Linked DNA regions of Homo sapiens. The protein of the gene in region 3 interacts with the protein of the main gene of each other region in a biochemical or structural test. Each region holds a gene or a part of one and is shown on either strand. Other genes may lie near its edges. The genes, in order: HIPK2, LIG1 and DCAF7.

The links.
Region 1: the proteins of DCAF7 (region 3) and HIPK2 form a complex in vitro, tested with the Homo sapiens proteins (one study listed by BioGRID).
Region 2: the proteins of DCAF7 (region 3) and LIG1 form a complex in vitro, tested with the Homo sapiens proteins (one study listed by BioGRID).

What each region holds. Positions count from the first base shown.
Region 1 is NC_000007.14:139,557,543-139,568,131, forward strand, and holds the end of HIPK2 (homeodomain-interacting protein kinase 2), read right to left. Parts: 3' UTR 4,028-10,589; downstream 1-4,027.
Region 2 is NC_000019.10:48,111,715-48,118,351, forward strand, and holds the end of LIG1 (DNA ligase 1), read right to left. Parts: intron 6,068-6,637; coding exon 5,924-6,067; intron 4,252-5,923; coding exon 4,159-4,251; intron 4,019-4,158; coding exon 3,935-4,018; 3' UTR 3,731-3,934; downstream 1-3,730.
Region 3 is NC_000017.11:63,553,112-63,566,771, reverse strand, and holds part of DCAF7 (DDB1- and CUL4-associated factor 7), read right to left. Parts: intron 1-13,660. UniProt on the Homo sapiens protein: Involved in craniofacial development. Acts upstream of the EDN1 pathway and is required for formation of the upper jaw equivalent, the palatoquadrate. The activity required for EDN1 pathway function differs between the first and second arches.

The DNA.
Region 1 (10,589 bases), on a different chromosome or scaffold from region 3:
AAAAAACAAACAAACAAAAACAAAACAAAAAACAAACAAAAAAAGAAACAGAATATATATGAAGACAGAAAAGTGTATGTCAAGTGATCCTTTTCAAGGTTACCTGTAATCTAGCATTGCTTTAGAAGTGGCAGCAAATGAGGAGTGACCCTGTAGAAGAGACCATAGACCTAGAGATCTCTGTACATGGAAAACAAGCATTTACAAAATGGAATCGATGGTCTCACAATACTGGATGAAATTTCTAGTTTCTAGCTATCAGTTTCTTCCGTATAGAATGAGGGTTGGGGTTGATGCTGAACAGTAGATTTTTTTCATCCTCAAGTAGTGCAAGATGGTGTATGGGAAGCCATGAAGGAAATAAATTTCCTAAGAGGAAGTTTGTGTGGTCCAAGTTGGATATAAAATGTGTGAGGCAGGTGAAAGAAAGAGTCCCAGATTCCTTTTGTTTCTTGAGACAGTCTCGCTTTGTTGCCCAAGGGTGGAGTGCAATGGTGTGATCTGGGCTCACTGCAACATCTGCCTCCTGAGTTCAAGTAGCTGAGATTACAGGTGTGAGTTACTGCGTGCGGCACAGATTCCTTCTTTAAAGCCAAATGCTGGCAAAAAGGAAGGACTGAAAATGAAAGTTAAGAGACATGAGGACATCCAACCCTAATAGTGTTACATCTACACTTTGCTCTTAATGTATGCTCTGCTTTTATACTTAATGTTTGCTTAAAGTTAGCTATTCTAGTAAAGGGTTGGAAAACACATATAAGCTGGACTGTCATAAAAAACTTTACACTTGTTTGGAACAGGCTAGGGCATAGCTGCTGACACCCAGCCATGTGCCCTAAAAGCAAGGAGGGGTTTGTGATGCAGGAGCACGCCCTCTAGAGCCAATGCCGCAACAGGGACCACCACAACCTGGCTGCTAAGTGAGGGCGCCATTTACTTGTTTGCTTGGTCTTTCTCTAGGGGCCGCCTTGGCTATTAAGCAGCTTATCATTTTTATTACCCCAATATTAAATATGCTTAAGGGAAATATCGACAACAGTAAGTTTATCTTTTCACTTTAGACTTAAGCAACTTTATGGTGCACGAGTGTGAGCTCCTTGGATACAGCTACACTGCCTTCCCCTTTGACCCACTCGTATCTTTTTTTTTTTTTTGAGATGGAGTCTGGCTCTGTTGTCCAGGCTGGAGTGCAGTGGCATGATCTCGGCTCACTGCAACATCCACCTCTTGGGTTCAAGCCATTCTCCTGCCTCAGCCTCCCGAGTAGCTGGGAGTAGCCACCACACCTGGCTAATTTTTGTCTTTTCAGTAGAGACGAGGTTTCACCATACTGGCCAGGCTGGTCTTGAATTCCTGACCTCAGGTGATCCCTCCGCCGCCGCGCCAGCCTGGCCCACTCGTATCTCACTGGTGTGCAGAATCTACTTCCCTTTCCATTTCCACACAATGTGATTCCTCTCAATGCATTTGTCATAAAAATGACAAAATGCATGATGGAAGAATTCTGAAGCTTTATCCGAATGTGTTGCATGGATTTTATGTAGTTTACATTTTACCTGAGTTGAATTTAATCCGAGTTGAAGTGTGGGCCACATTCAGGGTTTTGTTTTTATTACTGGAATTCTGGGAGATGCTGAATTTGGAGAGTGGAAAGGTGGGTTGGGGGTTGGATGAAGGTGGGCTGAGGGGTTTGTTCATTCACCCGAAGGTTCATTGACCACCCACTCTGTGCCTGGCATCATAATAAGATGCCCTGGAAACAGATGAAAGACAGATCTTTACTTGCAAGAATGTTAGGGTTTTGTAGGGAAGGAAAATAAGGGAAGCAATGTTGACAGTGTGGCCTAATGAGAACAATGCACAAGGCGCTGGGAACCGAGACCTGCGCTGACTGCCTCAGTCAGGAGCGTTAGGGCAAGCTCCCTAGAGAGGGCACTCAGGCTGGTTCTTGAAGGACATTTAGGAGACACGGCTGAAGATCTGAAAGAGGGAGGGGAGACTTGACGGAGAAAGAGCCCTCGGGAGAGAGGAAAGGACGGGGGAAGCACAGGGCCTTCCTCTCCTATATAGGGCTGACGGGATCCGAGGCGGCAAGGCAGATGCCACTGCGACTGGAGGAGGGGGATGAGGGCACTCTGTCCAGCAGCCTTAACCTCTTTGGGTTGCCTGGGGAGTAGAGGTCTCATGAGAGTGGGGCTCAGGGCCTGGAGAGATCGGTGTTTCCCATTAGCCACAGAAGTTGCTGCTGGAACAGAAGACCTGGCGAAGCTGGAGGTTATTCGTTTTCAGGGCTTGGTGGTCTTCCCCAGCAGCCCTCGGAGCAGAGGTGGACAGCAGAATCACTGAGCCATTGCGAGGGGGTGTGGCAGAGGCAAAAGGCTGTGAGCTGAGGGTGTAGGGGAAAAGGTGGGTGGAGGGAAGGGCTGTGGAGTTTAGTCTGGCCAACCCAGAGGCACAGAAGACCGAGGGCTTGGAACCCAGAGCTCCCCAGACTTGAAAATCCTGGAAATGGAAGCCAGGATGAGTGCTGGGTGGAGAAACAGGACACCTTGTGCATTGCTGGTGGGAATGTGAAACGGTACAGCTGCTGTGGGGAACAGAATGATGGGACCCCAAAGGGTTAATCTTAAAATTGCTGTAGGATCCGGCAGTTCCCTTGTGGGTACACTCCCGGAAGAACTGAAAGCAGGGATTTGAACAGATCTTTTGCACACCAATGTTCACAGCAGCATTTGCACAACAGCCAAAAGGTGGAAGCAACTCAAATGTCCATCAACAGATAAATGGATCAGCCAAATGTGATCTCTCCATACAATGGAATATTATTCAGCCATGAAAAGGAATGGAATTCTGATGTATGCCATAACATGAATGAACCCTAAAGACATTATGCTAAGTGAGATAGACCAGACACAAAAGGACAAATATATGATTCTACTTACATGAAATATCTAGGATAGGCAGATTCATGGAGACAGAGTAGAAGGGTGGTTGCTAGGCACCGGGTGGAGGGAGAAATGGGGAGTTGTTAATGGGGACAGAACTTGTGTTTGGGATGATGAAAAAATTCTGGAAATGGTGGTGACACCTATACAATAATGTGAACGTATTTAACGTTGCTAGTAGTCCACTTAAAATGGTAATTTTATATTATGTATATTTTACCATAATTTAAGACAAAAAGAGTGTCAGAAGGCTGGGAAACCCCAGTCCCAGCAGGATGTGGCGTTTCTTAGGCTTGCTGAGGTGGAGCTGCTGCAGGCACAGCGCCTGGACGGGGCTGTGGCGCACGTAGCTCAAGTGCGCAGTGGCAAGGGCCCTGGCAATGGGCCAGCAAGCCACGAGGCTCCGGGTGCTGATGGTGTCTGGTGAGACGGCAGGGCCTGGGTGCGGAGGATCCGGGATGCATATTGGAAAGCTTCCAGGACAGCAGGTGACAGCCACACCTTAGGTGTCAGGGACAGAGATTGGGAGCAGATGGGGCTGAAATGGCTTGGAAGAGGCAGCAGGAAGCTGGGAGACTCTTAGCCCCACTCAACTGCATGGGAATTGGTAGTAATGTGATCTCAAGGCCCCCCACCTCTCTCTGCAAATGTTCAATGCAGTGGTGGCTTCTACACATTTCCAGAGCCATTAAATAATCTCGGCCCGGCGCAGTGGCTCATGCCTGTAATCCCAGCACTTTGGGAGGCCGAGGCAGGTGGATCATCTGAGGTCAGGAGTTCGAGACCAGCCTGACCAAAAAATGGAGAAACCCCATCTCTACTAAAAATACAAAATTAGCCGGGCGTGGTGGTGCATGCCTGTAATCCCAGCTACTCGGGAGGCTGAGGCAAGAGAATCACTTGAACCTGGGAGGCGGAGTTTGCAGTGAGCCAGGATCGTGCCATTGCCCTCCAGCCTGGGCAACAAGAGCAAAACTCCATCTAAATAAACAAACAAACCCCAAATATGTTACTTGTAACAATAACCTCTTCGCTTTTATGACAGGTCTGGTTCCAGGATAAATAAGCATGCCAGGCAGGTGTACAGTGATTTCAAACAGTTTAATGTAATTCCAAGACAAAGTGTGATTACATTTCTACACATATACAATATGCATATGTGAGTTTACAAATTTTAATTAATAAGTCATTTCACCTCGGAGACCGAAAAAATGATCAAAAAGAAACTATGAGTAACAAGCTATAACATAGTTCACCACAATGGGACCCCCCCCCCTTTTTCTCACCCTACAGTTAGTAATATTACAATTAAAATAACTATATTCTTCTATATTTTTTCTGTTAAAATCATCTCATAAATTTACAATGCTATTATTAGTTTCCAAGACTAATATAAATTCACTCCATTTTTCTACAACGAAAATGATTAATTTAGAAGCACACGACGTCATGATGAAAAACACAAGCATTTTAGTAGCAAGGACTTGATCAGTTAAGAATTAGTTTTCTTGTAAAACATTCTAAAGCCAAGTAAAATATCCATTCTTATAACATACCTATAATATGAGACTAAGGAATAGGTTACATATAGGTCTACAACACATTGGTTTGTCTTTAAAAAAACAAAAGTAGACATTTATAAATAAAAAAGAGGGACAATTCACATAGGAAAAAGAGGTACACGAGAAAATACTGTTGCACGCAATAATTTTCACACAGATTAACATGGATTAACACTTTTTATTACAGAAACCGTACGGTGAAGGAACACAACAGACCAGGGCTTTCATAGGGTTATTGAGATTGAGCTGAGATGACCTGGGAGAGAAAGATCTAGGTGAGATGACCCTGGGGAGGGAGCCACGTTCCTTGGACCTGGTGACTTAGTGTCGCCGGGTCTCCTCTTCCCTGTTCTCATTTTGGGGAGTGAGTCTTTCTATCCAGTGTCCTGAATTCATGAGCAGTTGAAAGGTAAACATTTCTGCAGATCCATTCTCTTTCTATCCTAATGGATACCATTTTTGGAAACGTGACAGAGTATCAGAGGCTGCAGCTCAGTACACGTGGTCAAAGCAAAACGGGATGGAAACTTCCAGTCACTCTGATTTGTTGCCCCCGTCACCCACTGATGCGCTTGAAGCTGGGACCCAGTGAGACAGCAGCAGCACCCTACAGGGCCTGCTGGCTCTGCCGTGGTGAGGTGGATGACAAGGGCCCGGCGCCACGCCTCAGCCCCATGTGTGCGGAGTGGCCTGGGACACAGCCCATGCACGTCCAAGACACCAGTCTTGACTCCGACCTCTAAAGAGCTCCTTCTCCTCATCTGTAAAGCTATACTTCTCCTATCCAATTTGGTTTGATATATATACACAAACATATATATCAACATCTATCTCTATACAGTGATTCTACTAAATTAGAAATTCTGCTGCCCCAAAGTATGACTTTCTTGTCTATTTCATTTGGTTAAAAAAATGCACACACAGAGGATGAAGAGATGATTTGGGGGCTAGAGATGACTGTGCCCTGGAAAGTCCATGGAAGAAGCTTGAAGTGAGCAGGAACACAAAAGGGAGGAGAGCAGAAACGGGGGACCGACTGACTCAGGGCAGCGCTGACGGGAACATCTGCTTGGGGTGGGGCGGGGCGGGGGTGTGCTCTCTGTTCCATTTGTTAGTTACAGGAAGCTACCAAGGATGCACATGGTCAAGTCACTTTCTACTTCCCAAGTTCCTCCTTATAACCTGAGCCAAACAATTTCAACAATGACAATCCATTGCCCCTTCAGCCCAGCAGGCGACTCTGACAGGGAGGTGTGACCACCAGTCTCAAGGCTGAGTGGGGCCTTCTTGCTGGCTCTCGCGCTTTCTGGGAGTCCTGGGTGCCTTGGCCCAGGGCAGTGGTGACAGCAGGGTGGAGGCAGAGGTGGCCCCGGGGACAGTGACCCTATATAAGGAAGGGGGCGGTGCCAGGAGAGATTCGTTTGGAGATTGGTTACAAGGAAGCGAGGGAGAGCAGAGGCAGAGCCCTTTTTCAGATACAACATACTTACTTTTCAAATGAACAAAAGGCAATTTCTATGTTTTAAAAATATAAGCCCCAAAAACAATGACACAAAATTCATTTGGTTAATTCATGTAAAGGAAAAAACAGCAACACCACCACACAAACAGGAAAGTGGGAGTATGATTAGGAGGGGTGAGATGAAAACTATTTTACAGTAACATTTCCACCAAAAGACTGTCCTAAGAACACGCTGTCAATACAGTTCACAGGGAAAAAGCAAATGTGGTATTTTTTTGTATTTTTTAAAAGCTCCCTGGTCCCAGGTGTTTTGCAGTTTTCAAGGTCTTATCTGCTAAAGGAATGCCCTTTAGGTCACAGCAGGTCCTCTGCAGTTTGGTGGTGGCACAAGAGAAAACATAAAAGAAACCAAGACTCAGGGAAACTGCCATTCCCCCAGTCTGTTTCTGCATGACAGTGGGGCCCATTCCTGTCTCGAAGCATCTTCTTGTTCCAAATATGATGTCTGTTTAGAGTGGGTCTCAATGGACCAGGCTGAGCTGCCCCTCTGTCTCTGCCTCCTCCTGCTCAGCCCTGACCATCTCTGAGAGGATGCTAAGGTCCCCCTCCCACCGAACTAGACTTTGAGTCTAAGCTGGACAATGAGTAAAACGTAAACATAGCCTTTTACATTGATTTTGCTTTTAAGGGGAAAACGAATAAATGACAGCAGATATATGGAAAACCCAGCCAGCGACCATGGGAATAGGGGTATATGGTCCTCCCCTACAAAACGCTGATCAAAATATCACCCCCGGCCCAGAAGTAGCAGCTGTGCCTTCATGGTCACCTGAATCCCAGTCTCTTCTACTGCCTGGTGCCTGGAAATCAGTGGATCTATTAATAAGTTAAATATTCAAATCAAGACAAAAATCAATGAACCAGGTTATCTGTTCTCAATGACTCTTCCAAGATGTCAGAGAGAAGGCCTTGAAGACAAGTGTTTAGACGACACGCATGAGACCTTCGCATCTGGCCCGGGCTGCGGACTCACACCTTTTCCCTCCATCTGGATTGCCTTTCATGTTCTCTTGAGTTCACGTGGAAAGTAATAATCCAGAGGGAAGTGCGCATGCTGGACTACAGAAGAGTCTGGGACAACACACTTGCCTTGGGGGAGACACAACCTCCAACTAAGAGGCATTCACTGGGGTTTGCGGATGTCAGTTATAAACAGAACTTTTCTTTAAAAAGTACCAGTCTAAATGTAAACTATAAAACACTTTAACTATAAAACGTAGCCAGAAATATGCTTAAGTATCCACAGTCAATTGTTTAGTTTACTCATTTAAAATGTGACTGTTTTGATAGCTTAGAAGGCTAACAGCATTTTACAGTAGCTAAAAACATATATACTTAACATGTGCATTTGAACATCGCATTTGAGTACAACACACAAAGAATAATCTCTTCCTTGGTTTAATTTTTGTTGTAAAGATGAGCTATTTTCAGAATTCACTTAAGCAACGATGACCGGGGGTATGAAGTAATCATTATTTTCAGCCCACAGAGAATTCATAGTCTTTAAATTCCAAGATCAAGCTGGCTACATGATTTCAAAAAAGGCTAAAACCAGGATGAATGCCCACATTTGAGGTAATTATTGCCATTAGGTCACAGTTTGTGTAAGATAATGTATCTAAAACCTTCTAAAAAAAAAAAAAATCTTTAGGTGTTCTGCCAGAATTCCAGAATACCTATTGAAACCAACCAGGATCTCAAACTCCGATTAGTTAGGTTTGCTTCCAATGGAGTTAAAGTTCTAAAAGATTCTAGAACTTGTGTAAACTACCTAAGAATTTAGGCAAACAAGCCTGGAGCCAGTCAACAAAGAAGGTTTTAAATGAAAAAAGGAACAAGAAACCCACTCAAAACAACTGAACAAATATTTCATAATAAATGATAATAGTTATTTTAAAAAATTAAAAATCTAGTCCTAAGCATTTCTACATTCTCACCATCTTTCAATCAAAATAAAAATGCATCTGTATTTCTGTTAATCTCATACCAGGGCAAGAGACACGCCTTCCTTTTATCATGAAAGCTGGCTGGTTTTCCTGTTTATACAATTGTTGCTATTTCTTTGAGAAGAGTATCTCAAAAGAAAACATTCTTTTGTTCCTCTAAGTCTTGTCTTTCTTCCACCTCTACTTCTTTTTTTTTTTCTTTTTTTTTTCTTTTTTTTAACAGAAAGAAAAAAGTTCCTGGACACCAGACCCACATATGGTATTTACAAATTTGGTGTGAACCCTGCCTCTGGTTCTGCCCAGAGCTGAAGAGTGAATCTATTACAGAGATCAGAGCTGTCAGGATAATTATCAAGTGCAGTAAAAAATAGCATTTTGAAAAAAATATATACCTTTAGTATTGCCTTTCTAGAATTAACTATAAGCAAGAAAAACTTATTTTTTAAAGAAGAAAAGAATACTTTTTCACTCTTACTTATAAGAGCTGGTTGTAGCAGCACTACTAAAGCTAGTTGGTATGCTGGAAAGAAATCTAAAAGGAATTCTATGAATCAAAAGAAACTCTCCAGAGATTTTCTCTAAAAATCAAACGAATTCTGCCCCTTTTGCCTAAATCCAACTCAGGAGCCCCCTCTTTGCACAGTCCTTTAGCTGAGTCCCACGGTGCATGGGATGGCACAGGGTGATGCTGTGTAAAGGCCTTTCTTTGCTCAGACATGCAGGAGACAGCTGTGGCTAATGGCTGCAAGCTCAGTTCTGGAGCTGGGCAGACTCAGGTTCAAGCCCTCCTCGCCCCTCAAGAGTTGTGTGGCTCTGGGCAGTTTCCTTGGCTGTAGGGGGACTAATATTGCCGATCTCACAGGGCTACGGAGAAGATGAAACAGGACAACCCATGAGCAATTCCCAGCACAGTGTGTGGCATGCAGGAAGCGGGAGTATCACTAAATGGTTCATAGAAATATGAGGCCACGCATTGCTATTAATTAAAAAAAGTTAAAAGATTAAAAATCACATCTCAGGAAGGGCCTGATGAACAAAAAAGGGAACCTTGGGGATTCTGGCCCATCACTGCTTTATCCTTCCTTCAACACCTGCCACTTCTCAGAGCATCCGGTCAGCTCCCTTATCTATAAATGGGGGCTGTTATCCCCCTCCCTGTGGGATGGCTGTTGGGGCCCCTTGAGACAACGCTCATAAAGGCCTTAGCCCGGGAGTCATGAAAGCATTCAACAAATGTTGGCTATTATTTACTTGAGAGATATTGCAAATTTTAACAAATAAGGGACAGTCAGTGTCATGTTCAACACAGGGATCTGAGATGAGGGGCTCCCAGAGGCTTGGGCAAGTCCAGCGGGGGGCATCGGGAAGACCCTCTCTGGTGCTGGTGTTCTGGGACGGGAGCCCTGCAGGGGGCACTTCTCTGCAAACTCTCACTGGGTTTGAGGGAAGAACGGCCTGGAGTTCTTTTTTGAACTTTTCAGAAGCTGCAACAAGAGAAACCTCTACTATGCTGGGTCCCTCTAGTGAGCCACGGTGCCAAAAGCCTCCAATAGGTTTTTTTTGCATTTAAATCCTGTTTCACCGCCTTCCATTCTCTAGTGGCCTGAGATTTTACTGAGTCTGGTCTGTGGAGATGAGAAGTGAGAGTTCTAAGGCATCAAAGTGGAAAAGTACTGCTATTCCGAGCCCAGCCCCCGCGTGCTCTACGCCCTTGATGCAACTGAACTCCTGGCAGCCCTGCTTTGCTCTCTCCCATGGTGGCCTGGGATTAGTCAAGCCCACGTATTGGTATGGCACCTTGTCTCCCGATAGCAGCAGCATCGAAGGGGTCACCTCCACTCCTCTTAAAAGAATAGCACAGTTTTGAAATAAATGCATTTTTTTTTTTTAAAAAAAAGGACAGAGAGGAAAGAGAAAGACAAATAGAATTGCATCACTAATGATGTCATTATTGCCTGGAAAGGAACGAAGGGAAGGCCATTTTGTCCATTTCTGGAGGCGTCTTTGAGAAGGGTTCTTTGGCTAAAGAAAGGAACAGTTTCACCTTCCTTTCCAATTTGGTAAGGACATCTCTGGCCTGCTCAAGTTTGAAGCTTCCCCATCAGAAGTCTGTAAAACACACCAGAAGGAAAAGACACAGACAGGGAATGAAGCCTGCAAAGTCCCTGGGGCTGGAATGTCTTGTGGCCAAGTCACTCCTGCTGGCGCTGTGGAGTCCCAGGCTGGCCTGCAGAAGGAACCCTTACCTCTCCTCAATTCTCTCTGCTAGTTGAGAGCACCGAGCCATTTCCTTCTTTCCATTTTCTGTCCTAGGGTCTACTTGACAGGCCAACAAGAGTGGTGGTCCCACACCCCACCCTGCCCTCAGCATCAGACAAAGAGAACCTGGGACAAAAGCTGGGGCGAGCTGGGTCCCCACGTCGCTCTCTCAACCATGAGCCATCAGTAATACTTCCCGAAGCCTCCTCATCTCCTCCCTCCAGTTTCCAAGAAAGTTTGTTCCACTCACTCACACATGCTCACACGGCCTAAATCTTCCACCCCAAGCTTGTTCCAATATGAGTGTTTGCCATTCCCAAGGTCCAACCAAGGGAAATCGTTCTGTCAGCAGTTG
Region 2 (6,637 bases), on a different chromosome or scaffold from region 3:
TCAAGCGATTCTCCTACCTCAGCCTCCCGAGTAGCTGGGAACATAGGCATCTGCCACCACGCCCGGCTAATTATTTTTGTATTTTTAGTAGAGACAGGGTTTCACCATGTTGGCCAGGCTGGCTCGAACTGCTGAACTCAAGTGATCCACCTGCCTCGGCTTCCCAAAGTGCTGGGATTACAGTTGCGAGCCACCGCACCCAGCTTGAATTCTTATTTTTTAAAAATAGATATGAGGCCATAATCCTAGCACTTTGGGAGGCCAAGGCAGGAGTATCACCAATTTTAGAACAGGATTTCACCAGGGGGAAGATGGTCTCCCCTGCTCCCCCTAACGCCAGGCTCACCTCTTCAGTGCCCGCAACTCCAACCATCGCAGGATCTTTTCACTCCTAGACCTGACCATGCCACTGCCCCGCCTGCGGGATAAGGTTCTACACCTCGCAGGAGCTCATGAGGCTCTCCACAGTATAGTTAGTAGTTATAGATGCAGGGTCAAGGAGCTGACAGCATGGACCAAACCCTGGCCCACCACTTCCTAGATAGTGGACCTAGGGAAGGTAACTTACATCCCTGTGCCCCTCAGTGTCCTCACCTGTTAAATGGGGAGAATAAAAGTACCTACCTGGTGGAGCCATCATGAGGGTCACTGAGGAGTGAGGATGACCCTGACTAGCTTCAGCAGAGGGACATGGCGGCCGTGTGTGGCAGATGTGTTCCTGGGGCCCTGCACTGGTGCAGGGAGGAAGAGCCAAGCCCAAAGGAACCATGGTCTCCACACAAAGCCAGTAATGTGGGGATCCCCTGACATACAACATTTACTTTTTTTTTTTGCCTTAAACATTTTATTTGAAATTGAAACACAAATGCACACTAATTTGCCAGTTCTTTAAGGCAGAGCTGTATCAGGAACTCTTAGCTATGAGAAACAAGTCTTTTTTTTTTTTTTTTTTTTTTTTGAGACGGAGTTTTGCTCTTGTTGCCCAGGCTGGAGTGCAATGGCTCGATCTCGGCTCACTGCAACCTCCTCCTCCCGGGTTCAAGCGATTCTCCTGCCTCAACCTCCTGAGTAGCTGGGAGTAACAGGCATGTGCCACTACGCCCGGCTAATTTTGTATTTTTAGTGGAGACGGGGTTTCTCCATGTTGGTCAGGCTGGTCTTGAACTCCCGACCTCAGGTGATCTGCCCGCCTCGGCCTCCCGAAGTGCTGGGATGACAGGCATGAGCCACTGTGCCCGGCTGAAAGCCATGTTTTAGAGTGGCATAATCGCCCTGGGGCTTATTCTTCCCCTACTCCCATGAACAAAAGCCCACAGTTAGGCAGCTGCTGCCCTAGGTTCGCCGGTTTAGGGTCGTCAGGAGAGTTTGTTACTCTTTTTCCTCATCATTACAAGGTGGTGACTTGGCTCCAGCCATCATCTCTAGTCAAGGCAGGAGGAGGGGAGGAGCTGCCACAACCAGGGCTGTCCTTTTTGGTCAGGAAAGATGTTTCTCCAGAAGTCCCCAGCAGCCCCTGTGCTTATGTCCCCTGGGTCTGCCCACACAGGGCTACAGGGCCACTGCTAGCCCCAAGGAGACTCGGAAGGCAATGTTGTCTTCTTGGGCTACAACAAATAGAAACAGAATGCCCAAGAGATTGTGTGCACAAGAGACCATGATGGAGACACAGGAAGAGAGACAGGGAGGCTGAGTCACAGTGACAGACAGCAAAGTAAGCCTGGCACAGACTTGCACGGCAGAGAGCAAAGCCTCGCAGATAGAGAAGGAAGGGGAGAGAGGGCGGGTGGGAGACAAGGGCAGAGGAACCTGATGAGAGAGAAGGGAAGGAGGGAGGGCAGATGTGAGAGGCAGAAACAGAGTGTGAGGGGCAGGGGACAGCTGGGAGCCCTGTGTCCCCCCTGCGGGAGTATCAGGACACCCTGACACTCTCATGCCCGGAAGCTCCTGTTCCACGCTGGGCCCCGGGGTTAGAGGCCTCCTGCTCTGGAAGACCCGAGCCTGGGCCCCGCTCCGCGTGCAGCCGTTTTCCCCAAGCCAGCCCCGTGGTGCCCAGGGCTGGGTGGGTGTTCCAGGCATCCTGCTTGCCTTGTCTGACCATTTCCCGATGGTTTTCCTCTAACATATCATCCCATGTGGGGTGGCTGCAATAATAACAGCCCCCATAGATATCCAGGTCTTAATCGCTGAAACCTTTGATGTGACCTATTTTTTTTTTTTTTTTGAGATGGAGTCTCGCTCTGTCGCCCAGGCTGGAATGCAGTGGCACGATCTCGGGTCACTGCAACCTGTCTCCCAGATTCAAGTGATCCTCCTGCCTCACCCCACTAGTAGCTGGGATTACAGGCACGCGCCACCATGCCCAGCTAATTTTTGTATTTTTAGTAGAGACGGGGTTTTGCCATGTTGGCCAGGCTGGTCTCGAACTCCTGACCTCAGGTGATCCACCTGCCTCAGCCTCCCAAAGTGCTGGGATTACATGCGTGAGCCACCGCGCCTGGCCCTTTTACATTTTTATTAATTTTATTAATAAAATTAGAGGAGATGAAGTCTGGCTGTGTTGGACAAGCTAGTCTTGAACTCCTGGCTTCAAGTGATCCTCCCACCTCAGCCTCCCCAAGTCCTCCCCAAGGCGTGAGCCACTGTGCCTGGCCTCTGTGAATGTGTGATCTTATGTGACTAAAGGGACTTTGGGATTGAGTTAGGATCCTGAAATGAGATTATCCTGGATCATCCAGGGGGCCCTAAATGTAACCACTTGAGTACTTGGAAGAGAGAAACAGAGATCTGATGGAGGAGAGGACGTGACCTGATGACCTCAGGAGAGAGATTTGCAGGTGCGATGCTGCTGGCTTTGAGGACGGAGGAAGAAGCCATGAGCCTAGGAACCAGGTGGCCTCTGGAAGCTGGAAAAAGGACACAGTTTCTCTCCTGGAGCTCCCAGAAGGAACCGGCCCTGCCACCACTTTGATGTTAGCCCAGTAAAACTGATTTTGAACTTCTGACCTCCGAAACTGTTTAGGGAATACATCTGTGTTATTTTAAGACACTGCATTTGTCTTCCTTAACAGGGCTCACGATGGTGCCTCCCTGTGGGATGGCTGGAAGGTTAAACAAGTTAAAAAATATATGTATGTAAAGATTTTAGACTACTGCTGTCCAATACAATTAAATAAAATATTTGGTATGGCTGGGTGTGGTGGCTCACGCCTGTAATCCCAGCACTTAGGGGGGCTGAGGAGGGTGGATCGCTTGAGGCCAAGAGTTCAAGATCAGCCTGGCCAACATGGCGAAACCCCATCTCTACTAAAAATACAAAAATTAGCCAGGCGTGGTGTCACATTCCTGTAATCCCAGCTACATGGGAGGCTGAGGCAAGAGAATCACTTGAACCCGGAAGGTGGAGGTTGCAGTGAGCTGAGATCTCATCATCGCACTCCAGCCTGGGCAACAGAGCGAGACTCTGTCTCAAAACAAAATCAAAACAAAACAAAACAAAACAAATTCGCATCCTCTGTCATGCTGGCCACCTGTCAAGGGCTCGGGCATTGCAGGTGGCCAGTGGCGGTCACACTGCACAGAGCAGATAGAGAAGACGCCCACCACTGCAGGCAGTTCCATGGCTGGCACTGGCTCTGGCAGTTCCTAGGCCATGGCTACATGGCTACATGCTATGCAGGTGACACCCATGACAGCTTTGCCCCCAGAGCCCAGCACAGACCCTGTCACAAAGTAGCTATCCAATAATTATTTATTGAAAGAAATGACGGGATGAATCCCAGACTCCGGAGTAAGCCACCCCCTCACACACACACCCCTCCCCTGACTCTCAAAATCCACAGCCTGCCACAGCAGATTTGCTAAAAAGCAAAGGCAATAATAACCCTGGGGTCCGTCCAACTCATGCCCTGTACCCAGGCCCTAGGAGGGCGAGGGCTTAGTAGGTATCTTCAGGGTCAGAGCCTGAGTCCTCGCCTTGTTGGTTCTGAATCTGACTTTGCTTCCGGTACAAACAGGCCACCTGCGGAGAGAGGGTGGGACGGGGTGGTCAGAAGCTCCCTGGCTGCTCCCACCTCCACAAGGTTCCAGAGAGGCCACCACGCTAAAAAGCTGGTAGGGCCAAGCAGCTGGGCGGCCCACCCCTGCTTCCCAGGACCTCACCTGAGCACTGGTGGTGGCCTGCTCCGGCTGCTTGTCTTCACGGACTCGAATAAACCGAGGGAAGCGAAGGGAGATGCCCTTGTCACTATCCACCTGCGGAAGCGGGATGGAGACTCCTGCGGTCCAGCCCCAGCGACCCCCTGCTCAGTCTCCTCCCTCCTCCACTCTGGACTGTTTCCTGATCCACATGACGGGGCCGAACGATGGGTTGTCATAAGGATTAAACAAGTTGACAAAGTGCTTGGAACAGTACCCGGGCACAGTAAGTGCTCAAGAAATGCTGCCTGTTGGCCGGGTGCGGTGGCTCACCCCTGTAATCCCAGCACTTTGGGAGGCCGAGGCGGGTGGATCACGAGGTCAGGAGATGGAGACTATCCTGGCTAACACGGTGAAACCCCGCCTCTACTAAAAATACAAAAAGAAATTAGCCAGGTGTGGTGGCGGGCGCCTGTAGTCCCAGCTACTCAGGAAGCTGAGGCAGGAGAATGGCGTGAATCCGGGAGGTGGGGAGCTTGCAGTGAGCTGAGATTGCGCCACTGTACTCCAGCCTGGGTGACAGAGCGAGACTCCAACTCAAAAAAAAAAAAAAAAAAATGCCACCTGCTACAGCCGTTACGATAATGACGGTAATTCGGGCTGAGAGGCTGAACTACGGCGCCAGGGTATGGGTTCTAGAATCTGACTGTGGGATTCCAATCCCAGCTCCCAACTCTCAGGAGCCGCGTGATGCAGGGGCAGTTACTCAGGCTCTCTAGGGCTCTACATCCTCACCGTAAAATGGAGATGTTTGTGTCACTACGTCTTACGGATTTTGAGAGGATTAAATGAGTGTCTATGAGTGACACGCTGATGACCACACAGTGCCCACTGCACAGCAAGGGCTGGATACACACCGGCTCCTGTGCCTTGTTACTAAGGGTCCCTGGCTGTCTAACGTGCAGCATGGTAAAACATTTTTAAAAATTAGATCAAAAATGTAAGTTCTTGGCTGGGCATGGTGGCCCACACCTGTAATCCCAGCACTTTGGGAGGCCGAGGTGGGCGGATTGAGGCCAGGTGTTTGTGACCAGCCTAGTCAACATGGTGAAACCCCGTCTCTACAGGCACGGGTCACCATACCCAGCTAATTTTTCTATTTTTTGGTAGAGGTGGGGTTTCACCGTGTTGGTCAGGCTGGTCTTGAACTCCTGACCTCAAGTGATCTGCCTGCCTCGGCCTCCCAAAGTGCTGGGATTACAGGCATGAGCCACTGTGCTTGCCCTGGGAATTCTTTTATTTAAGAAAAGAATTTTCTTTTCTTTTTTTGAGACAGAGTCTTGCTTTGTCACCCAGGATGGAGTACAGTGGTGTGATCTCGGCTCACTGCAACCTCCGCCTCCCAGGTTCAAGCGATTCTCCTGCCTCAGCCTCCTGGGTAGCTGGGACTACAGGCACCCGCCATCACACATGGCTAATTTTTGTATTTTTGGTAGAGATGGGGTTTCACCATGTTGGCCAGGCTGGCCTTGAACTCCTGACCTCAAGTGATCTGCCTGCCTCGGTCTCCCAAAGTGCTGGGATTACAGGCACGAGCCCCCATGCCCGGCCCATTTTTAAAGAAAAAATGTTTTGATCTTTTTATCTGACACTCAAATAAAATGCAAGCTCATCTTCCTGATCCTTACCTGGAAGAGCAGATGTGAGCCAAGGTCCCCTCCCTACTCTGCTCTCTGTGTGCCCGCCCAGAATCCCACACAGGGCCACGGCCAGGTCCTCTGCCACTCACCAGGCCCCGCGCAGCAGGGTAGATGGGAGAGAGGGAGAGGTCAGCGCACTTCACCTCCCACACAGCGCTGGGGTCCAGCCAGTGGTCGGGAATCACAGCGCCATCTATCCGCACGTAAGGGCGTGGGCTGGGCAGCACCAGCGCCTGCAGTGAGCAGAGGAAGAGAGGAACAGAGGGTCTGGAATCTCAAAGTCAAGGCCAAGTGTTGGAGGGCTGGGGAGAGGGAGGAAGGGAAAAAAACAGGCACCCCCTTGAAGTAAACAGAAATAGGAAGTGAAATAAGGGAAAAGAAACAAGACACCCCCTTGAAGTAAACAGAAATAGAAAGAGAAACAGAAAGTGAAAGAAGGGAAAAGAAACAAGACCCCCTTGAAGTAAAAAGTTGAGAAAGGTGGGAGTTGGGAGGAATGGGAGATGGAAAGAAATGAAAGGCCCTGGGGGCTGAGGCAGGACATTAAAGACAAAAAGAGGCAGAGAAAGGGCCAGAGACCTGGAGGAAGGAGACAGAGACACAGTGGGACAGGGACAGAGATGTAGAGAGAGAGGGCAATGGAGAGAGAGAACCAAAGAGTGGGACAGAGATGGTGTCAGGGTCCGTGTGTCCCCACCCACATCTTGTCTTGAATCATAGCTCCCAAAATCCCCATGTGTCGTGGAGGGACCTGGTGGGAGGTAACTGAACGATGGGGGCAGGTTTTTCCCGTGCTGTTCTCG
Region 3 (13,660 bases):
AGACACCACACCTAGCTAATTTTTGAATTGTCTGTAGAGATAGGGTCTCCCTCGAACTCCTGGGCTCAAACAATCCTCCCGCCCTGGCCTCCCATATTGCTGGGATTACCAGTGTCAGCCACCGTTGTCAGCTGTATTCTGCAATTTGCTTTTAACAATAATCTTAGAAGATCTTCAGTACAAATAGCTCTCCTTTCCCTCATTCTTCTATAGCAGATTATGGTAAGCACACCATAATTTATTTAACTATTCAGTTGTTTTGGTTATGTACCATTGTTTGCTAATACAATACTACTCTACTTTTGCTAATACTACTACTCTTACTCATTTATTTTTGTATGTGTGTGCAAATGTTTTTATTGGACAGATTCTATAAGTGTAACTGTTGTTTTTTTTTTTTTGAGACAGAGTCTCGCTCTTTTGCCCAGGCTGGTGTGCAGTGGCGCCATCTCTGCTCACTCTAAGTTCCGCCTCCCAGGTTCACGCCATTCTCCTGCCTCAGCCTCCCGAGTAGCTGGGACTACAGGCGCCTACCACCACGCCCGGCTAATTTTTTTGTATTTTTAGTAGAGACAGGGTTTCACAGTGTTAGCCAGGATGGTCTCGATCTCCTGACCTCATGGTCCGCCCACCTCGGCCTCCCAAAGTGCTGGGATTTTCGTTTTGTTTTTGAGACAGAGTCTCACTCTCTTGCCCAGGCTGGAGTGCAGTGGTGTAATCTTGGCTCATTGCAACTTCTGCCTCCTGGGTTCAAGCGATTCTCCTGCCTCAGTTTCCTGAGTAGCTAGGATTATAGGTACACACCACCATGCCCAGCTAATTTTTGTATTTTTAGTAGAGACAGGGTTTCGCCATGTTGATCAGGCTGGTCTCGAACTCCTGACCTCAAGTGATTTGCCTACCTAGGCCTTCCAAAGTGCTGAGATTACAGGCGTGAGCCACTGCACCTGGCCAGAGGCTGAGTACATTTGTTCATTGACTACCTTTACTTTTGAATAACAATAATCATTAATAACTGAGCACTTACATGGACCAAGTATAAGCATTATTAATGCTTTACACACATCATCTCATTTAATCCTCTCAATACTGCCATGAGGTAGGTACTATTATTCTTCCCACTTTCAGTAAAGAATGTTGAGTTAAATATCTTGCCCAATATCACAAAGCTCCATTTTATTATTATTATTATTTATTATTTTTTTGAGACAGAGTTTTGCTCTTGTTGCCCAGGCTGGAGTGCAATGGTGCGATCTTGGCTCACCACAACTTCTACCTCCCGGGTTCAAGTGATTCTCCTGCCTCAGTAGCTAGGATTATAGGCATGCACCACCACGCCCAGCTAATTTTTGTATTTTTAGTAGAGACGGGGTTTCTCCATGGTGGTCAAGCTGGTCTCCAACTCCCAACCCCAGGTGATCCGCCCACCTCAGCCTCCCAAAGTGCTGGGATTGCAGGTGTGAGCCACCATGCCCGGCCACAAAGCTCTATTTTAAATACAGGCAGTCCCATCCCACTACCCAAACTCTTCACCATTACACGGAAATCACCAGCTTAGAACATTTGTCCAGTTTTTCTACTGGGTTGTGGATATCTCTTTCTTATTGATTTGTAAGGACTTTCTCTCTTTTTCTAAGAGATGGGGTCTCACTCTCACCCAGGCTGGAACGCAGTGGCATGATCATAGCTTACCACAGCCTCCAATTACTGGCCTCAAGCAATCCTGACACCTTGGTCCTCCCAAAGTGCTGGGAATTATAGGCATGAGCCACTGAGCCCAACTCCTCATCTAGATTCGTGACTGTACTGTTACAAATTGTTAGTAGCACTCTCATTCTTTAAGCTCCTCATCCCCCAACACCACATTTCCGCCTATGCCCATAGGAAGGATGAGTTTTTGCCCCAGTCCCCCATGGAGGGAATACTGAGCGTGGGAGTTCTGCTCTTCTGTCCCCACCACTCACTAGCTCCTCCGGTGGGGGAAGAATTGCTGAAGTGATTGGCTGAAGCCCGAGACAGGTGCATGGGCCTGACCACTCTACAGTCAGACATGTCCCATGGCTCTCTGGCTCTGGCTTATCCTGCTCCTACATGGACAGGCAAATTGGCCTCCTCAGAATGGGCCTGACCATCCTCCGCTCCAGTTTCTCTGAACCTACAACTGGGTAGGAGAGGTCAGATTGGGTCTGTCCTTGAGTCAGAGGTAGAAAAGCAGAAAGTTTCACTGAGGCTTCAAGGCCAAACTGCATTTTCCCCACTTAGTTCACCAGGGAGCAGCACCACATTAGTGGTTCTTGTTCGGTTATTAATAAAATGATGCTAGGTTTCCCCTTTGGCTACTATTATTTGTATATAATTTCCTTGATAAGACTCCAGTGGAAAAAGAGGTGAGTGCTAGAATTTAGATACCAGAGTTCTAGCCTGAACCCCTTACCATTATATCCTCTAACATTTTCTTGTCCATTTTTACAAGTTTTATCTATTTTGATGACATTCCAATTGGGTTTATTACATTCTTTAAATGTACTTTTAGATTGTAAGAGGATTATAAAGTGTATCACATCATATAAAATCAAACAAAACACAGGTGTGTGTGTATATATGTGTATGTGTGTGTGTGTGTGTGTGTGTGTGTATAAAGTTAACATCCCTCTATGTCATCCCCAAGATATCACATAATTTGTTGTGTGTTGCTTCTACATTCTTCTATATGGTCAAACATATATACATTAAGTGTAAAGTTTTCCCTCAACTTTTAGAAAAATGAAATTCTAGAGCCAAGGCTATGAATCTCTATTAATTTGACAAAATAATGGACATCCCTCAGAGCAATATGAAGAGCCAAATCATTTTTTTAATCTATGTACCGGGATTCCCCCAGTGCTGTACACTGTTTTCTCTTACTTGCCGCTACTTATTTTTATTATTTATTTATTTATTTATTTATTTATTTATTTGAGACAGAATCTCACTCTGTCGCCCAAGCTGGAGTGCAGTGGCACGATCTCAGCTCACTGCAACCTCCACCTCCTGGGTTCAAGTGATCCTCCCATCTCAGCCTCCCGAGTAGCTGAGACTAGAGGTGCCCACCACCATGCTAGGCTAAATTTTTGTTTTGTTTTGTTTTATAGAGATGGGATTTCACCATGTTGCCCAGGCTGATTTCAAACTCTTGAGCTCCAGGGATTACAGGCATGAGCCACCACGCCCAGCCACCACTACTTATTTATATGCCTTTGTACATATGTGTTTATGAACTGCTGTATTTTTTTCTGGAGGCCAATGTCCTAACAGTGGGATTTCTGTATTAGAAAGTATGTGCATTTTAAATTTTAATAGACACCAACTTACTTTTCAAATAGACTGTAGCAACTAACATTCTTAGCAGCAGTATGTAAAGGTGTTCATTTCTCCATACTGTCAACAGCACTAGAAGCAATAACTTAATTTTTATAAATTTAAAAGGGAAAGATGATATCACAATTCTCATTTCCCTTAACTACCTGTGAGGTTCAGCATTTTTCCTGTTTACTGATCACTTGCATTTCCTCTCCTATGAACTAGATATTCATACCCTTTGTCCATTTTTCTATTGCATTGAGTATTAGCTACTATTGTCTGTCATGTTTTGAAAATATTTTCCGCCAGGCAGGGCTTGGTGGCTCATGCCCATTATCCCACTATTTTGGGAAGCTAAGGTGGGAGGATTGCTTGAGCCCAGAGTTCAAGACCAGCCTGGGCAATATGGCGAGATCCCATCTCTACAAAAAATAAAAATAACTAGCCAGGCAGGGTGTTGTGCGTCTGTAATTCTAGCAACTTGGGAGGCTGAGGTGGAAGAATCTCTTGAGCCTGAGAGGTTGAGGCTGCAGTGAGCTGTGAATTGTGCCACTGTACTCCAGCCCAGCTCATAGAGCAAGACAGTGTCTCAAAAGAAAAAAAAAAAAAAGAAAATATTTTCTGCGGTGTTTGGTTTTTTGTTCTTGTGCATATTCTCACTCATAGGTGGGAATTGAACAATGAGAACACACGGACACAGGAAGGGGAACATCACACTCTGGGGACTGTTGTGGGGTGGGGGGAGGGGGGAGGGATAGCACTGGGAGATATACCTAATGCTAGATGACGAGTTAGTGGGTGCAGCGCACCAGCATGGCACGTGTATACATATGTAACTAACCTGCACATTGTGCACATGTACCCTAAAACTTAAAGTATAATAATAATAATAAAAAATAAAAAATAAAAAATAAAAAAAGAAAATATTTTCTGCTGTCTTTTGACTTTGTCCATGGCATATCTTTCACAGAGAAATGTTTTATTTGTATGTACTATAGAATCTGCCAATCTTTTCCTTTGTTGACTCTGGAATTAATTAATGAGTGTCCGTGCGCACCCCCACTGCCTCATGACAAATTTCCTGATCAACTTTCTAATAATGTTTGTGGACTTTCCTTTATAATTAGACGTTTGATCTGGAATTAGTTTTCATCATACACTGTGAATTAGGGGTTCTAAATTTTTCTGCTAGATGAACAACTGTGCCATACGATGTAATCTTTTACCCAGTGAATTACAGTTCTATCTTATCACATATTTCACATTTATATATACTAAAGTTGTCTTTGAAATATTCTATTCAGTTCCACCTATCTCTCTGGCTATATCAATTCCAGTATGTTTATTCTAATCTGGTAGGGTAAGTGTTCCTCTGTTTTTCAACATGTTCTTTTTCCCCCTAAGTTTTTTTTTTTTTTTTTTGGACATTGACATACATTTATTCTGAACACTCTGGAGACAGACAGCACTCTAGTTCTGGCCCTCCTTTACCCCTTATATGACTTTGGGCAAGCCACTTAGCACATAGCTGAGCTTCAGGTTCCTCACCTTCCTGTAAGTTTTGATATGTAGCATTTTTTTTCCAATCAGTTGATTTCAACTTAAAAAAATTTTTTTTCTAAATACACAGTTTTTGTAAATTGGGTTATTGTTTAAAGTGAATTTTCCGTTGAATGCAAAGCTCTCTATACTTATAACACATTTTCTTCTTTCGAGATGGGGTCTCACTCTGTCACCCAGACTGAAGTACAGTGGCTCGATCTAGGCTCACTGCAAGCCACTGCCTTCTGGGCTCAAGCGATCCTCCCACCTCACCCTCCCAAGTAGCTGAAACCACAGGCATGGTGCCACCACATCTGGCTATTTTTTATATTTTGATAGAGATGGAGTTTCACCATGTTGCCCAGGCTGATCTCAAACTCCTGGGCCCAATGATCTGCCAGCCTCAGCCTCCCAAAGCGCTGGGATTACAGGTGTGAACAAACTGTAATTTTCTAACCCTCTATATCCTTGTTTTGTCTACTTCACTTAACAATTTCCAACATATGAACCAAATTCTCCCTATATTTACAAAATTTTTGCTTTCTATTTAAACGCTATACTCTTAGATATGTAAAGACTTATGACTTTTTATTCTTAGTCGGTTGTACTTTTCTTTTTTATTTTTTGAGATAGAGTCTTGCTCTATTGCCCAGGCTGGAGTGCAGTGGCGTGATCTCAGCTCACTGCAACCTCCGCCTCCCGGGTTCAAGTCATTCTCCTGCCTCAGCCTCCTAAGTAGCTGGGATTACAGGCACACACCACTACACCCAACTAATTTTTGTATTTTGAGACAAGGTTTCACCATGTTGGCCAGGCTGGTCTTGAACTCCTGACCTCAAGTGATCTGACTGCCTCAGCCTCCCAAAGTGCTGGGATTACAGGCATGAGCCACTGCACCCAGCCTGTAGTGGGGATTACAGGTGTGAGCCATCACGCCCAGCCTGTATGTTTAACATGTAAAATATTTCCTTTTGTTTCAACATTTTTGCCTTGAATTTTATCTGATGTTAATATTATCATGCCTGACTTCTTCTCTATAAAAAGAACTGCTTCTTGCTACTATATGCCTAGTGCTTCTTCATTCATTCCTTTCTGTTTATTCCTCTTTCTGAAGTTCTACTAAGATTTAATTTTTATTAATGTTAGCTTTTTTATTACTAACTTTCTTACTAGGTAATACATACACAAGGCCCAAATTTTGAAAGGCATAAAAGCAAAGCAATTACAGTACAAATTAGAGCCCCTACATCCCAGTCCCTTTCCCTGGAAAAATCAATGTTATCAATTTCTTGTGTATCCCTTCTACACACAACCACATATGGGTGTACATATGTATATGCATATGCTTTTAAAAAACACAGGTGTTTACTCTTCTACATATTTTTCCACCGAATATTTATTTTAAAATATTCCATATCAGTATATGAAAAGCTAGCTCATTCTTTTAACAGCTGCATGGAGGTAGCATAATTTATTCAACAATTTCCCTAATAATAATATTTTCATATTTTTCTTTTACAAATAATGCTAAAATGAATATCCTTGCACTTTAGTCATTTCAACCACATGAGTATAGCTGTAGGATGAATTACCACTAGCGGAACTACCAGGTGGAAAATAATGCCAATTTAAATTTTGATAGCAACTGCATGGGAAAGCTACACATACGTGTATACACACACACACAGTAGATTACCACGGTTTTTTATTTTTCCTAATCTAGCTGAAACTCCATTTTTTTTTTTTCTTATGAGGTTCAGTTCTTCATACGTTCAAGAATCATTTACATATCCTTTCTGGAAACTCTTCCTATCTATTTCTCTTTTTCTACTGGGTGACTGGTCTCCTGGTGATTTGCAGATCTTTATATGCAGTTATTAAGGGATTTGTTCTTTGTCTAGGACATTACATGTATTTTTTCAGTTTGTCACTTATCTTTTGACTTTGGTTTTGTTACAGAGATTTTATTTTTATATAGTTTACTTCTACTTTCATGGCTTTCTCACACCAAGATTCTCCCGTGTTTTACAGTTATATGTTTACATTCTTCCATTTATCTGGAATTCTGGTACAAGGTTTTTTTTTCTTTGAGACGGAGTCCCACTCTGTTGCCCAGGCTGGAGTGCAATGGTGCCATCTCGGCTCACTGCAATCTCTGCCTCCTGGGTTCAAGCGATTCTCCTGCCTCAGCTTCCCGAGTAGCTGGGATTACAGGCACCTGCCACCATGCCCGGCTACTTTTTGCATTTTTAGTAGAGACAGGGTTTCACCATGCTGACCAGACTGGTCTCAAACTCCTGACCTTAGGCGATCCACCCGCCTCAGCCTCCCAAAGTGCTGGGATTACAGGTGTGAGCCACTGCACCCGGCTGGTACAAAGCTTAAGGTAGAGATCCAATTTTTTTTTCTGGTTTCAATACCAATTATTAAAAATATATATATATATATATACACACACATATATATATACGTATATATATACATATATATACATATATATATACATATATATACACATATATATATACATACATATATATACGTATATATATGTATGTATATATATATACATATATATATATATATGGGTCTCACACTGTCACCCGGGCTGGAGTGCAATGATGCAATCTTGGCTCACTGCAACCTCCACCTCCTGGGTTCAAGTGATTCTCCTGCCTCAGCCTCCCAAGTAGCGAGGATTACAGGTGCCCACCACCATGCCTGGCTAATTTTTCGTATTTTTAGTAGAGACGGGCTTTCACTATGTTGGCCAGGCTGGTCTCGAACTCCTGACCTCGTGATCTGCCTGCCCCCGCCTCCCAAAGTGCTGGAATTACAGGCGTGAGCCACTGTGCCTGGCCTTAAAAATATTTTTTCTTCATTTCCTATCACCTTTAGCACAGACTACATTTCTTTTTGTATTCTGAGTTCATTTCTAGACTCTGTTTATACATCAGTTCTTAGAGTATCAAACGATCTTATTTATTATATCTTTGCATTATGTTTTAATATCCATCATTAGTCCACCTTTTCAGAAGTTTTTTGACAATGTGTGCATGTTTGTAAAATTTATCTGTAGAAACAATCAGTTTGCCTGGTTCTAAAAAACCATTATTAAAAATCTGGAGTATTTTTGGCCAGGTATGGTGGCCTATGCCTGTAACCCCAGCACTTTGGGTTGGGCAGGCAGGAGGACTGTTTGAGGTCAGGAGCTCAAGACCAGTCTGAGCAACATAGTGAGACACCTACTGATTAAGCCCAGGAGTTTGAGGTTACAGTGAGTTATACTCACACTACTGCACTCTAGCCTGGGCGACAGAGCGAGACCCTGTCTCCAGAAAAAACAACTGTGGTATTTTAAACAGGGATTACATTAAGTTTAGGGACACTGACATCTTTAGGATACCAAGCTTTACTATACAAGAAAAGAGAATACCTTCCCATTTTTCGAGTATTGTTTTGTGTTCCCCAGCATTATTATTTCCACATAAACCTTACATATGCCTAAGTATATCCCCAAGTATTTATAGCAGCACAATCTACAGTATTTGTACATTCCTAGACATTGCTCCATGGCCTTCTGTCATCAAATGTAGCTAGCCTAATTTCTTTTCCCCTCTTAAAGAGGACTTGATCATTTTGTCTGGGTGTCCAAATAATTCTTTCTTCATCCTTAAAACATAGAAATGTTCCTAGGGATGCCAGGCTCTGTGCCAGGCCTGTAGTCCCAGCACTTTGGGAGACTGAGGTTAGTGGATCACTTGAGCCCACAGTTTGAGACCAGCCTGGGCAACATGGCAAAACCCTGCCTCTACAAGAAATACAAAAATTAGCGGGCGTGGTGGTGTGCACCTGTAGTCTCAGCTACTCGGGAGGCAGAGGTGGGACAATCGATTAAGCCTAGGAGGTCAAGAGTGCAGTGAGCTGGGATCATGCCTCTGCACCCAGCCTGGGCAACAGAGTGAGACACTGTCTCAAAACAAAACAAAACACACGAAAAATAAGATAAATTTTTTAAAAAAGAAATTTTCCTAGGAAATGTTTCAGTGCCAACTGTTCAGTGCCAATTTTTCTTATCACTTCATGCCAATTTGAACTTATCACTTCAAATCTTTGGCAAGTTCAAATCATGCCAATTTGAACTTATCACTTCAAATCTTTACTTCTAAGTTCTTCTTTAACCATATATTTGAGTTTGTTTCATTTCTTTGGTCCTCTTCTTGAGGGACACCAATTATACTTACGTCAGATCTCTTTTACTTTCTGCATCTATTATGTTCTCATTGTTTTCTTCAGTTTCATTTTTCAATCTGTCCTCCCTAACCTTTACTGTTTTCAGCACTGTGTGTTCATCTTTATTCTGTTTCTTTCTTTCTTTTTTTTTTTGACAGTCTCACTTCATCACCCAGGCTGGAGTACAGTGACATGATCTCGGCTCACTGCAACCTCCTCTTCCCAGGTTCAAGTAAGTCTCCTGCCTCAGTGTCCCAAGTAGCTGGGATTACAGGAGTGAACCACTGTGCCCAGCCTTTATTCTGTTTCCAATGTGGCTTTTAATCCTGTGATAATTTTAGTTTTCTCTTCCACTACTTTCCTGTGTGCTCTGCCAGCTGATGTTATATTTTCTCTTTGCCATGCCTTATTTTACCCAATCCTCTATATCTCTGCTTGAAGTTCTGTATTTTCTTAAGTTCTTTGAACTCACAGTGGTAGGACTGACAATTATTTTTCAACCAAGCTAAAGACATCTTTTTAGTATGGGTACTTTATCTGCCACTTATTTTCCATTTCCCCCCATCCTTTCTAATAGCATCTTTCTACAGCTATTGTGCTGATTCCATTTGTTTTGTTTTTTTGGTTTTGAGATGGCGGTCTCGCTCTGTCACCCCAGCGGGAGTTCAGTGGCAAGATCTTGGCTCACTGCAGCCTTGACCTCCTGGGCTCAAGTGATCCTTCCATCTCAGCCTCCTGAGTAGCTGGGACTACAGGTGCATGCTACCACTCCCAGCTAATTTGTTTTTTCTTTTGAGATGGAGTTTCACTCTGTCACCCAGGCTGGTGCAGTGGCACAATCTTGGCTCACCACACCTCCGCCTCCCAGGTTCAAGTGATTCTCCTGCCTCAGCCTCCCAAGTAGCTTGGATTACAGGCACGCACCACCACATCTGGCTAATTTTTATATTTTTAGTAGAGCCGGGGTTTCACCATGTTGGTCAGGCTGGTCTCAAACTCCTGACCTCGTGATCCGCCAGCCTCAGCCTCCCAAAGTGCTGGGATTACAGGCATGAGCCACTGCGCCCGGCCCTGATTTATTTTTTCTTTTTGAAACAGTCTTGCTCTGTTGCCTAGGCTGGAGTGCAGTGGCACAATCTCCGTTCACTGCAACTTCTGCCTCCCAGGTTCAAACTATTCTCCTGCCTCAGCCTCCCAAGTAGCTAGGATTACAGGCATGTGCCACCATGTCTGGCTAATTTTGTATTTTTAGTAGAGACAGGGTTTCTCCATGTTGGTCAGGCTGGTCTTGAACTCCCGACCTCAGGTGATCTGCCTGCATCCACCTCCCAAAGTGCAGGGATTACAGGCATGAGCCACTGCGCCTGGCCATATTCCACTTTAACACACACAGTCCTAGTGCAGAAGAAGAAGGTGAATGTGTGTATGTATATGTAATTTTTAAAATAAGCTCCCAAGTTATCCAAATCAACATAACACTCCAGTCACTGGAACATTTTCCCACAATTGTTAATAAAACAAAAATCGGCTAACACAATATTCTGAGAATATACACTAGCTTTTCCTGGTCTTTTCTATTTGCTTTCTCTTCAAGCCTCTTCCTGACTGATTACCAAGGACCAGTGTCTGCAGGTACCCAAGGTCCTGCCCTATTAAACTTTAAGATGAATTCTGGCACAGCACACCTTTGGCTCGTGGCTCAGAGGCTGACCAGAGAGCTCTGGCAGCGAGAGCTTTGGCAGCAAGTCCTTAGGCAAGCCAGGCTACCTACAGAGCATAGATTCACTCCTTGTTCAAGTGACAGCATCTCCAATAAGTCTATGTGAACAAGATTAGGACAAAAAGCAATAAAGTAGCATTTTTTTTTAAAGCATTATCACTTTTATCCAGTGGTCACAACAGGGAATGAGTCCTCTCACTGTCTAGAAAAAGGAGGAAGTTAAAACCAGAAGAGTTTTATGTCTTAAATTCCCCTGCTGACAGTCTTGACAGGGACTCGTGGAACACTGCGACATTCTAAATATCTATCAAAAGTACTGATGTGTACCAAAACACATTGTGCCTAAAACACATGAGTATGTGTTCAATACAGACCGGCTAAATTAATGAGCAAATGAATGATAATCCTGAAGGGCTACCGCAAATACCAAGATGAAAAATTAAATACCGGAGTCGAAATAATTATGCATCAAACATATAAAGTAATTGTATTAAAAACCTCAGAGGAATCAACACAGGCTGGTGAGGTGAGTACCCATCCCAGTGTTTCAAGTACAAGGTGGTCATGCCACCCAGACTCACTACTAGGATTCTCCAAAAAGCATCAGATATACCTACAGTCTCTCCTCAGAACCTCAAAAATACTCTCTGGATGCCAAATCTTAGAGCACAAGTAGTCAGTTAAATACTGGGGCAAACTAAATCCCAATCACACTGCCATCTTTATCAAAACCAACCCTGAAACATGCACTTAAGTGGAACAGAAGCCCAGGAACTGCTACCCAGCTTTTCCCAATAAAAGAGGGGAAATAACACCTGGGCCTAAAGACCAAACATATTGTCAAAACACAGGAGAAATGCCAAATTCTTATATCTGACTTACGTAGGTAAGCCAGGTAGAACAAGAGAAAATGGATTTAAACTAGAAAATTACACTACTTGGAGTCTGACTATAAGAATCTGCTAGACTACAAAATGAGTTGGGTTGAAAGAGATAAGGGAATTTTCCCCCCAGAGTCTTTAAAAGGCAGAGAATGAAATAATGACCTTTTCAGCTACCTTTCTGACCTCTTATTCCTGAATCCTTTCTGGAAAATACAAAAGTAAATTTACTAAACAGCCATATAATTCTCTTTGGTTATATTTCAATTACAGGTACAGTAATGATAATAATTAAATAACAGCTAACATCTCTATATGGCTTATTCCACACCGGGTGGCGTTCCTAAGTCCATTACATATATTAACTCATTTAATCTTTGAACAAGGTAGATGTTATTATTTATTGCCCTAATTTTACAGATGATGAAACTGAGACACAGAGGATAACTTGCCCAAGGCAATACAAAACTGGGAAGTGGCAGGACTTAGATAACCCAGGCTAATCACAGAGCTTTTTTCATGGGTGAACTTGGATGGAAGGGCAGAACCAATGTTTAGGAGCATGCAGACACAAAAAGATCACATTCTCGCCTCTGGCCAACAGATGCCAAGGCAGCTCCAGGGCCATGTTCTGAGAGTGCCATCTGGACCACTCAACCACTAGTGTGTCTGTCACCTATCTCCAAGTCTGTTAACTTCAGGGGTGGAGCCCAGGAATGTGCAGCTCCCTCAGGATTCTCACACACTAAAATTTAGAGAACCTGTTGCTCCAACACCAATCTTGCTGTATCCCTCAAGAGACCACAACAAAAGAAGGTAGAAACATAATAACCAATAATGAGGCTGTTTTTTGAGACAGGGTCTGGCTCTGTCGCCCAGGCTGGAGTGCAGTGGCGTGATCTTGGCTCACTATAACCTCTGCCTCCTGAGCTTAAAGCATCCTCCTACCTCAGCTTCCCAAGTAGCTGGTACTACAGGCAGATGCCACCATACCTGGCTAATTTTTTAATGTTTTTGTAGAGTCAGGGTTTCTCCATGTTGCCCAGGTTGGTATCAAACTCCCGGGCTCAAGCGATTCTCCCATCTCAGCCTCCCAAAGTGCTAAGATTACAGGTGTGAGCCACCACGCCCAGCCCTATAATGGGGCTTTTTATTCCAAGTGTAGTTGATAGAATCTGTTTCTTTACTCTGCAACAATTCCCAAATTTATTCACATGAAGGAACACCTGGAAGTCAATTTCTTAAACTGTTGATAGACTTAATTCTATGGATCAACTAGGTACAATTTTACGTTAGGAAAACATGATTATGCTAATGCAAATTTTTAAAAATTACAACCATGTTTTCTTAGTGAATGTCTCCACACTAAAAAGATGACCACTTCTAGCCTTTTTCATCAGTGTTAATTTGCTGTGTCCATTTTACTTTATCCTCTGCTGGTGACCACTATCCATGGCAAGCAGGAACCAATGGTCTAAAAATTCCAACCAATAATTCTAAAGTTCCTCCAAATTATGAAGTCGACCACCTCTTTGGCAGGGTTTCTCACAAACTTAGCCTGAGAATCACTTTAAGGCAGGATTTGCTGCTCACCAACCACTACACATACTTCTCTCTCGCAGGGTTTCTTAACTTGGGGTCTGTGAACTTGAATTGGAAAATTATCCCCATATTTCCATTAACCTCTAGCTAAATTTTTTTGTTTCCTTCAATTACAAATGGGGTCAGGTGCTCACAGTGGTATGACTGTCTGTGACTTTGCCAGCAAGAGAATTTTTTTTTCCCACCACAGCACAGTTGTTAAGCATCTTGAAATGCTGTTTACCCTTGTCACCATTTCAAAATTACATTAATAATTACAGTGGATGGTGTAAATCAATAAGTTAATTTATTAAAAGTACATATGACTACATCACCACTTTAAAAAACATGTTGTTTATATCTG